Regions from separate parts of the Homo sapiens genome. Here region 2 is linked to region 1. The links come from fine-mapping of genetic effects on gene expression. A gene starts in region 1. The other region holds a variant in brackets. All regions are shown on one strand. Distances are from middle to middle.

What was found. PIP is the estimated chance that this variant, and not a neighbour inherited with it, causes the effect.
Region 2: its variant is the best candidate, but not a certain one, in a credible set for the expression of POLR1B in testis (GTEx, PIP 0.75).

Annotation. Positions count from the first base shown.
Region 1 is chr2:112,539,972-112,545,346 of GRCh38, reverse strand. POLR1B (RNA polymerase I subunit B) reads right to left here and starts at 2,882. Exons shown (of 15, transcript NM_019014.6): 1 at 2,676-2,882. The coding sequence starts at 2,852. It overlaps TTL (tubulin tyrosine ligase), which reads right to left. Exons shown (of 7, transcript NM_153712.5): 7 at 3,608-5,375. LOC105373562 (a long non-coding RNA gene) reads left to right here and starts at 3,135. Exons shown (of 2, transcript NR_136321.1): 1 at 3,135-3,144; 2 at 3,269-3,691. RefSeq lists an enhancer at 2,850-2,999.
Region 2 is chr2:112,586,837-112,592,211 of GRCh38, reverse strand. CHCHD5 (coiled-coil-helix-coiled-coil-helix domain containing 5) reads right to left here. Exons shown (of 4, transcript NM_032309.4): 4 at 3,172-3,346. The coding sequence ends at 3,323. Among named protein-coding and RNA genes, the nearest start is that of CHCHD5, 4.9 kb to the right of the region's middle. The variant A/G (reference allele first, on the strand shown) is at 2,727.

The DNA.
Region 1 (5,375 bases):
CAAAGCCTATGATTTCATCCACTGATCAATACACAACCTTGCATTATGTGGGTTTCTGTTTAAGGACAGCTTATCTAATATATATTATTGAGTCCCTAACGCATGCCTGAACAAAGCCTATGTTAAATGCATGTATTAATATTTTCCCCTAAAGGCACAGCACAGCCTTCTTGTGCTTAGGAACTTTATACAGAACTTTAATACTTTAATACTTTGCTTGGGGGACATTTTAAACAGCAAAATCACCAACAAAAAGCACAAAACACGGCACTAAATAGATAGTGAAGACAACCTCTGTTTATAGTTTAAGAACTTAAAACAAGAAGGCCGAGCATCACCTTGTTAGATCTCAGCTGGGAAAATGGACACTGAGCAACTCAACTTTTTTGCTGCTTCTGGGCATGGTGCTTTTGGAGTAGAAGTAAATTTTAGTGAGTAGGTGAATTTGCAAATATGGAATCCCCAAGTAATAAAAATCAATTGTATTTTGAAAAGACAGACACATAAATTCTGACTCACAGAAAGGAGGAATTCACTCCAAAGAAACTTGGCAAAATTATGTTTTGTAAGTAAAAAATATGATAACTATTTTTTCCCTTGGCTTTATAAGTATTAGTTATTTATGTTACTGTGTTTTACAGAACTTTTTCAAATACTATATTATTATAGTCCTAGCTAAGTTGTGGCATCATTTTCTATGCAGGGCCAAATTTTCTTCATCTACTTCAACCAAAACAATTATCACAAGGGACTGAATGCACAAGCAGACATGAGAATCCAGCTGTCTTTTCATTAAGCCAGACATTAAAAAGATTTTTAATAATGCAATTCATCTAACTTCTTTTTTGCTTTGGAAAATATTTTTCTTAAAAATGTTAACATATAATTGGTTTATTTATTTATGTATTTATTTTTTTGGGAGAGTCTCACTCTGTCACCCAGGCTGGAATGCAGTGGTGCAATCTTGGCTCACTGCAACCTCCGCCTCCCAGGTTCAAGCGATTCTCGTGCCTCAGCCTCCTGAGTAGCTGGGATTACAGACATGTGCCACCATGCCCGGCTAATTTTTGTATTTTTTAGTAGAGATGGGGTTTCACCAGGTTGGCCAGGCTGGTCTGGAACTCCTGACCTCAAGTGATCCACCCGCCTTGACCTCCCAAAGTGCAGGGATTACAGTCAAGAGCCACCACACCCAGCCGACTGGCTTATTTTTAAATTAGTGCTTTTCTAAAATTTCTCAATTGGATTTTTTTTTTTTAAAGACAGGTCTCACTCTGTTACCGAGGATGGAGTGCAGCGGCACAATCATAGCTCATTGCAGCCTCAAATTCCTGGGTTCAACTTATCCTCCCACCTCAGCCTCCCGAGTAGCTGGGACCAGCTACTTGGGTGCGCACCACCATGCCCCACTAATTTTTAAATTTTTGTGGAGATGGGGTTTCACTATGTTATCCAAGCTGGTCTTGAAATCCTGGGCTCAAGTCATCCTTCTGCCTTGGCCTCCCAAAGTCCTGGATTACAGGTGTGAGCCACTGCACCCAGCCCGATTAACTTTTAATTAGGAATTTTTTCTCACAGACATGATACTGTAACAATCCAGGCACAATACAAATAACCCCCACCCCTCTAGTCTTTCTAAACAATAAATCTTAATGGCTCCCATATTATTTGCCGAATAGAGTTCAAGAATCAGACTGGCAATCAAAGCTCTCCACATTATCTGTATCCCTATCTCCCACAACACAAATCTTACCCAACAAAACCACAGGTAGGGTCCCCGAAGCATGTGACTCTGCTCTACTCTTCCCCTGGACGAAATGCACGTTTCTCACTTCTTGAACTCATCTAATCCTGCCCTTTCTCAAACTCCTGGATTAGTTGCGCCGCCCATAGGCTCCCGCAGTAGCCCACACAATCCCTTGGCAGAGCAGTTCTCAAGAACATTGGCATGCACTGCTTTCATTATCTTCACCCCTTCAACCCCCAAACACGACAGGGAGCACTTAAATGCATGAACTGTCTCGTACACGGGACTGCCTCCTCCACATCCTCTGAGCCTAGTGCCTGGAGACACTGGGGATGCTTACTAAACGAAGCTTTCCCCCACCATACTCACTTGAATTCTGCTACCATTACTCTACGCTAATAATGCAATTACACTTTTCGATTCAATCTTGCTTTCATGACTCATTTATACCTTCCTCGGCACCTGCTTAATTCATAACAAATGACGAGTAGTTTCTCTCTTTAAAGCTCTAAGAGAAGGAAACTGAAGGATAACCTTGAACATTACACTGTACCTACAAATACGTTCGGGATCTTTCGAGGTACGTTTTGGAGAGGTAAGTCTTCAAGTGATATAAAGCCGTGTGCATTGTGAAGCACATCCCCAGATAAGCCACTTCCTCACTCTCACAGCACCCCGAAACTGTCCAAACTACGGTTCACAATCACTTTTCACTCCAGAATCACGAATACATCTCTTAAGACGCCTCGACTCCAAGTCTCACGAAGGCCAGTACCGCGTCCTGTTTAACATGTTGTGCTCTCCCGCTTACCCACCAAGCCTGTCAGGATCAAGGAGCACATGCATCTGGGGTCATACTGTGACCTCCCAGCCACCTCCCTGGGATTGGCCTCGCCGCGGCAAGGGCGCCGGCGGACGCCGCGCTCACCTGCACCGCGAGGCCGAGACCCTCGTGCACAGCGTAGTTGAAGGACTCCACGTGCGCCCGCGTCAGCTCCTGCAACGCTGCCTTTTGCTGTTCCCGCGGGATTCCATAAGAGGGGTCAGTCAAGTGCTTTAGGCTAGGCCCGCTGGGCAGGTTCCGCCACCGGCTGCCAGGATCCATGTGGCCACCTGCACACCGGACGCCAGTCTCTCGGTACACGCCGGACGCCAGTCTCTCGGTACACGCCGGAAGTAGTGGCCGCAGTCCCGTTTCCGCAGCCTGCTGGGAAATGTAGTTCCCTCTCGTTCCACCCGCCCTAGGCCCTGCGGTTTCGGTTTCTCGGGGTCAACGTAGAACCAAAAACGTCGAGTGAACGGGCCGATTAAGGCCGTGTCCAGCCAGAGCGTGGCGGGCCCTCCCTTTCTCCCATATTCCGCCCCACTCATCTCCCCGCTCGCGAAAGATGCCGCAGGTGGAAACCCGCTCCCCGCCCAGTTGAGCATGTGACCTCTTTGGCTCTCATTGGCTCAGTCAATTAGGATCGGAGGAGAGCGGTCTTCTCAGGCTCTCTTCTGTTTCCCTTCACCTGTTCCCAGTCCCACGCTGATGCCGACCCTGGGGAGTCATCCGGCCAAAGTCGTTGCTTCAACGAAAAAGCGGATGCCGGGCCCCGGGCTGACTCTCTACCCAACTCCTAACTCGCGAGGCTCACCCCTGGGAAGCCAAGGAGTGGTCGGGCCCCGCTAACCTCGTCGCATCTTCCGGACTGGAGGCCTGGGGGAGGCCTGGGGAAGGAGGTGGGAGAGGAGTCGGGCGGTCCCGGATGGAGGGGATGGGGCAGCGGGGCGTCCAACTGGATTTACAGCCTGAATTTCTTTTGCGTTCCTGTGAGCCCCTTACCTCCCCAGAATACTGATTAATCAGGGAATGCCTGCTGGTTTTTCAACTTTATTGTGTTTGTGTTTAACAGCTATATTGCGTTATAACTGGCATACAATAAACCACACATTTAAAGTGTACGCGTTAAGTTTTGACCTATGTATACAACCATGCAGCCATCACCACAATTAAAACAATGAATTAAACCACCACTACCCAGTATCCTCCTGCCCCTGATAGTCCCTCCTTACTGTCAACTTCCCCTTTCCTAGTTCAGCTGGTACTTTTCATTCCTATATCACTTTTTATAAAAAATTCGAGCCGGGAGTCTGTTGCACAGGCTGGTCTTGAACTTCCGGCCTCTAGTGATCCTCTCGCCTTGCCTCCCTAAATGCTGGGATTACAGGCATGAGCCACCGCGCGCGCCCGGCCAACTGAGTAGTTGTAGTTCTTTATATAGCCTATACTAGTCCTTGTCAGATCCATGATTTGCAAATATTTTTCTCCCATTCTGTGGGTTTTTACTTTCTTGCTGGTGTCCTTTGAAGCAAAACGTTTTAATTTTGAAGTGTAGTTTTTTTCTTTTGTTGCCTGTCTTTTTATATCATATCTAAGACATCATTGTGTAATCCAAGGTCATGAGGATTTAAAAAAAAATTTATGGGTACATAATTAGCATATTTATGAGGTATATGAGATGTTTTCATATAGGCATACGATGTAATCATCACAGGAGGGTAGATGGGGTTTCCATCACCTCAAGCATTCATCATTTCTGTCATGAACATTCCAATTGTACTTCCTCAGTTATTTTTGAAGGTACAACAAATTATTGCTGACTGCAGTCACCCTGTTGTGCTATCAAATACTAGATATTTTTCAATCATGGGGATTTTCACCTATATTTTCTACTAAGAGTTTTGTAGTTTCAACTCTTACATTTAAGTCTTTGACTCATTCTGAGCTAATTTTTGTATATGGTGTGAGAAAGGCATATCACTTTATTCCTTTGCATGTGGATATCCAGTTGTCCTAACACCATTTGTTAAAAAGACTATTCTTTCCCTCATCAAATTGTCTTGGCCTCCTTGTCGAAAATCAGTTCACTATAGATGCAAGGGTTTATTTTTGACTCTCAGTTCTATTCTCTTGATCTGTATGTCTATCTACATTTATCTGTATATCTGTCTACAAACTACACAGATTTGATTAATACAGCTTTGTAATAAATTTTGAAATCAGGAAGTGCACATCCTCCAACTTTGTTCTTCTTTCTCCAGATTTATTTGATCCTTTGTATTTCAATATGGATTTTAGCGTCAGCTTAGCTTGTCAATTTCTTTCTCTTTTTTTTTTTTTTTTGTTTTTTGTTTTTTTGAGACAGAGTTTTGCTCTTGTTGCTGAGGATGGAGTGCAGTGGCATGATCTTGGCTCACTGCAACCTCTACCTCCTGCCTCAGCCTCCCAAATAGCTGAGATTACAGGCATGCACCACCATGCCTGGCTAATTTTGTATTTTTAATAGAGACAGGGTTTTACCATGTTGGCCAAGCTGGTCTTGAATTCCTGACCTCAAGTAATCCATCTGCCTTGGCCGCCCAAAGTGCTGGGATTACAGGTGTGAGCCACCACACCCGGCCCAGCTTGTCAATTTCTGCAAAGAAGGCTGAGATTCTTGATCAGGATTGTGTTCAATTGGTAGATCAATTTGGGGCCTATTTTCATCCTAACAATAATTATCTCCCAATCCATAAACATGGGATGTCTTTCCATTTATTTAGGTGTTCTTTAATTTCTTTCAGAGATGTTTTGTAGTATTTGGTG
Region 2 (5,375 bases), 47 kb before region 1:
TCAAATATCAAAACTGACACAAGAAGAAACACTATGAAGTTGTTGCAGTAATTTAAATATAGGCACAATTTTTTTGCAGCCAAATGCTATCAAGAAGTAAAGTCTCCCCATCTCTTTAATCTCAGCTGGGCTCATGACTGCTTTGACCAATAGAATGTGGTAAAAGTGATGTCTGAAGTTTCCATTTTCACTCTCTTGGACCCCTGAGACCATCATATAAAGAAGCTAGTCTAGCCTATTGTAAGACAGGACACATAGAGATGTTCTAAAGTGTAGTCTGGATCTCCATTTTGTCTGTTTTAATCACACTTCTTTTAGTTGCATGGCATAGAACCCCACTCAAGCTTACTCAAGCAAGTGGAGTGGGCTGAAAACATCCACCACAGCCCATGGAAACTAGAGATGGAAACAAAAAGCCACCAGGATCCAGACCCTTTCAGGGACAGGAACTTGCAGGGAGCCAAAGGCCTGTGGGATGTGACCAACTCAGCATTCCACTGGGGCTATATGATCAAACAGCAAACTGTTTACCATTAATACAGAATGTGGACAAACTCACTTCTGTGCCTGCCCCAGAAGGTTTGATGAGGGCAGTCGCTTCCTGGCGCCGAGCTCCTTGAGGTTATCTACTGCGACATCTAGGGAATGCAGTCTTGCAAGCCTACTCTGGACAAGCTGACCTCTTCTTCTACCTGCCTTCTCGCTATCTCTTTTGCCTAATAAATACAGAAAGCTGTGTAAAGCTCAGGGCCCTTGTCCACTAGAGGCAAGGTGCCCCCTGACCCCTTCTTCCAAATATACTCTTTTGTCTCTTGTCTTTTATTCCTGCATTCGCCACCCTTTCTTCAGTCCACCAGGGATTGTGGCAGGTTACAGGAACTGATCACAATTCTCTCTCCACTACCTGGGTTTCCTCCTAGCTCAGACAAATGGTATAAAATCTTGCAACCCTGAACTTACAGGATTTCTACCCGGCTCCTAAACCAATGAACAACTTCCTTTGTCTTGGAGATTAATCCCTAGGAGAGACTCCCATAGGCCAGGCTCATTCTTCCAAGCCGAGCATAATCCTTGGGTATCAAATGGCCAGTTACTCCAATTTCCAGAGGTTTGGGATCACCTCCAGGGAGGAGGGCCTCGTCTGAATGGTGAATGTGGGTGCAGGCCATGGGCATGCTCAGCTCAGCACTCTGGGGTCTCCTCCTCTATTGCATACACGCCTGTCTGCTTTCTATTCTTTAGGACCAGTCCCTACTGGGGAGCCTGTATCAAACAGCAGGAGCCTGTATTCCTGAGAAGCATGAAGAAGCCACAGCAGCCACTGTTGGTACCTGCCCAGATCCACTCAGCATCTCTTCCGCAGGTTTAAGGCTGCTCACTTGATCCCATTATACTCTGCTTACGGCCCTCTTCTGATGGCAGAAGTGAACTTGGCCTATAAAGGGCAGGCCAGAAGTACCAGTCAATGCCCATGAAAATACCCCTTAATGACAGATGGGAAGTTGGTAGATAACACAATTCCCTTGCTCCTTGATAGGGTAACTGGGTTATGTTCTATAAAGTCCCCCACAGGTCCCCAGTGGGACTGAGTCCCAGTTGCCCAGAGTGGTAACTCGCTTGATAATGCACCTTTTATTGGCTGCCTTCCTCTCTATTGTCTCCCTTCTCCATTCCTCTATCAGTGTTTCTGGAATCAAATTCAAATTACCATCTGCACTCAAATTCTGAGTTGGCTTCTGGAAAACTGGAAACTAAGAACAGAAATCCAGTGCATAGACCAGAAGCGGTGGCTCACACCTATAATCCCAGCACTTTGGGAGGCTGAGGTGGGCAGATCACCTGAGGTCAGGAGTTACAGACCAGCCTGACCAACATGGTGAAACCCCGTCTCTACTAGAAATACAAAAATTAGCCGGGCATGGCGGCCGGTGCCTGTAATCCCAGCACTTCGGGAGGCTGAGGCGGGCAGATCACCTGAGGTCAGGAGTTTGAGACCAGCCTGACCAACATGGTGAAACCCCATCTCTACTAGAAATACAAAAATTAGCCAGGCATGGTGGCGGATATCTGTAATCCCAGCTACTCAGGAGGCTGAGGCAGGAGAATTGCTTGAACTCAGGAGGCAGAGGTTGCAGTGAGCCGAGATCACGCCATTGCACTCCAGCCTGGGCAACAAGAGTGAAACTCCGTCTTGAAAAAAAAAAAAAAAAAAGAAGAAAGAAAGAAAAGAAATCCAGTACATGGCCTTCTAAGCCATACATCCTTCCATGTGGTTGTTTTCAATAATAAAGCCAGTATTTTCATCTCCATTGCCTAATGCCTCTGTTGCCCAGTTGATTCTGAATTCAGCAGGGAAAGACGCATATTATTTATCACCCCCCAAGCCTCCAGAAAACTGAAAACAGATTTGGAGAATGCAGCCAGGCACTGTGTCAAGTGCTTACGGTAGTGCTAGCTACTGTGGAGGCTGAGGCAGAGGATCACTGGAGCCCAGGAGTTCGAGGCTGCAGTAAGCTATTATCGCACCACTGTACTCCAGCCTGGGCAACAGAGCAAGACGTTGTCTTTAAAATATATATATAGGCTGCGCGTGGTGGCTCACGCCTGTAATCCCAGCAATTTGGGAGGCCGAGGTGGGCAGATCACGAGGTCAGGAGATCGAGACCATCCTGGCTAACACGGTGAAACCCTGTCTCTACTAAAAAAAAAAAAAAAAAAAATTAGCC[A/G]GGCGAGGTGGCGGGCGCCTGTAGTCCCAGCTACTAGGGAGGCTGAGGCAGGAGAATGGCACGAACCCCGGGGGGCGGAGCCTACAGTGAGCCGAGATCGTGCCACTGCACTCCAACCTGGGCGACAGCGAGACTCTGTCTCAAAAAAAAATAAAAATAAAAATAAAATAAAAAATATATATATTAAAAAAAAATAACAATTTGGGGAATGCTAGAGTGGAAGGGATTGAGGGTCTTTACCCCAGGCACATGCAGCAGAAGTCAGGAAATGGCTGTGTGGCAGAGTTCACAAGGGAGGCAGGGTAGTCTCAACCCTGGGGCACAGCTGCAGAGTCCTGTTCTTCCCAGGCACTTCCTTGGCACACCCGGTGAAGCTGGGGAACAGATGACTCTGCCCAGCCAGCTCTCCTAGGACCCTCTCAGGTACGGATGGCAGGAATCAAAGCCCAGTATACAGAGTCTTTATTTATTGGAAGTCCTGATATCCAGGAAAGCCGGGCCCATGTCCAGGGCTCAGGACTCCATCTGGCCACTCTGCAGGGGAGGGGCGTGGGGGCAGTCATTCATGTCCAGTTTTCCTGCCGTCAGAGGAGTCCTCAGGAGGCAGGAAGTGGCTGTGCCTGTGGAGAAAGTACATCAACATCTAGTAGCACCTCCTCTGTGCCCAGCCTGGGGAGCCTATGTAGACACCACAGAGGGAGACCCTGCAGAGCCCACAGTCTGGAGGGAGAAGGGTGTTGGGCAATGACCTTGGCCCTGAGCCATGTGAAAAAGTCAGCTGTGGTGAAGTGTCATGGGAGGCAGGGAACGCGCCATTCTGCTATATTTACTGAGCACCTGCCGTGTACCCAGCAGGCAAAACTCTCTGACTCAAGCAGGGAGAGACGGACAATAAATATGTCAACATCCAAGAAATTCGATGAAGAAAATTTAATCAGGGTAAAGAGCAGAGGTGTGTGCGGAATGGGAGGGACATGTACCACTTTGATTGTCAGCCACAAAAACACAGGACATTCTGTAAAGTCTGTATGCCATGCTGCAGGAGATGAGAATGTTTGTGTTCGCTATTGTGTAGACCAGACAACAAATCTCACTGCCCCTAGCTAGGAAGGAAAAACTGTAACTGGGATGCCATCCCCAGGAAGGAGGGGATGATGAGGAGATGTGACCTAATTCCCTTTTTTTTTTTTTTTTGGAAGACAGAGTCTCGCTCTATCGCCCAGGCTAGAGTGCAATGGTGCAATCTTGGCTCACTGCAACCTCTGCCTCCTGGGTTCAAGCAATTCTCCTGCCTCAGCCTCCCAAGTAGCTGGGATTACAGGTACCTGCCACCACACCTGGCTAATATTTGTATTTTTAGTAGAGATGGGGTTTCACCATGTTGGCCAGGCTGGTCTCAAACTCCTGACCTCAGGTGATCCACCCACCTCGGCCTCCCCAAGTGCTGGGATTACAGGCATGTGCCACCGCACCCGGCCCTAATTCCCATTTTTAAAAGCTTCTTTGGCTGCCAGGGAAGAGAAGACTGTCAGGGCAGGGGTGGCCACAAGGAGACCAGAGAGAGGCTGGTTGCTGGTCCAGGGAGGGAAGCAGCAAATGGCTCTAAGATAGGAGGATGGGGTCTTTACTGTTCAGATGCCCAAAAAACTTGAAAGACAGAAATGTCCCCAGCAGCTGACTGAGAACAGTATGTGATCGTTAGGTAACGTTTCCTGAGGAGAATTAAGTTCCTTCCGGCTCTCAGGGGTCGTAGTTTCTGCCCTAGGGGTCTGAACTATTCACTTATCCTTGCCTTACAGAAACAATTAATGCCTATAGGGCCTGGTAAGAAGGGCATCACCCCAATCTTCAGCCAAGAGCTCCCTTGACACAGGCATAGGATGTGAGCCTTGATGGAGGGGCTCAGGGACCTTGGGAACTTGAAGACAGGGGCGGGAAGTGGGTGGGACATCAGGGAGGTTTTCTGAGAGACGTGCCGTCTAAGCTGGAATAGGAATTAGCCAGGAGATGGATTAGGAAGGGCAGTCCCAGCAGAGGGAAACAGCTGGACAAAAGCAGCGGAGACGTGCACTTGAGTAACTGCATGTTCACTGGGGCTGGAACATAGAGCTTAAGGGGGAAAGAGAGGAGAGGTGGGACCACGGGTCGCAGGGACTGCATCCCACAGGGCCCTGTGGGCTGTGCTGGCATTAAGACTTGGGCTGGTGGAATTGAGAACCATGGAAAGGTTTGTAAGTAGAAGCAGAACATGGTCAGATTTCCTCTGAGATCAGTCTAGGATGATCACCAAGAATGACTGGAAAGTCAAGATGGAGCATGGGGCCCAGGAGAAGGATGGCCAGGTGGCCCAAGAGAGAAGCCAGGGCTGCAGGGGCAGAGAGAGGGCCCCAGGAGAGGGTACTCACAGGGGCTGGGGAAAGATGTGACTTTCACCTTTGGAGCTCACAGTCCAGTGAGGAGGGTAGTAAACATCTAAAAGAGCATTTTTCAACCTTTTTCCGTTACTGCCTCTCCTCAAGGAGTCATTTTAGACTTTTGTTCTAATTGCCCAACCATGAAACTTACATATCACAGATATACTGTATATCTGGTTTACATATTAGATACATTTAAAAGAGTGACCTTTTTTTGGCCACCCCAGCCCAGCCC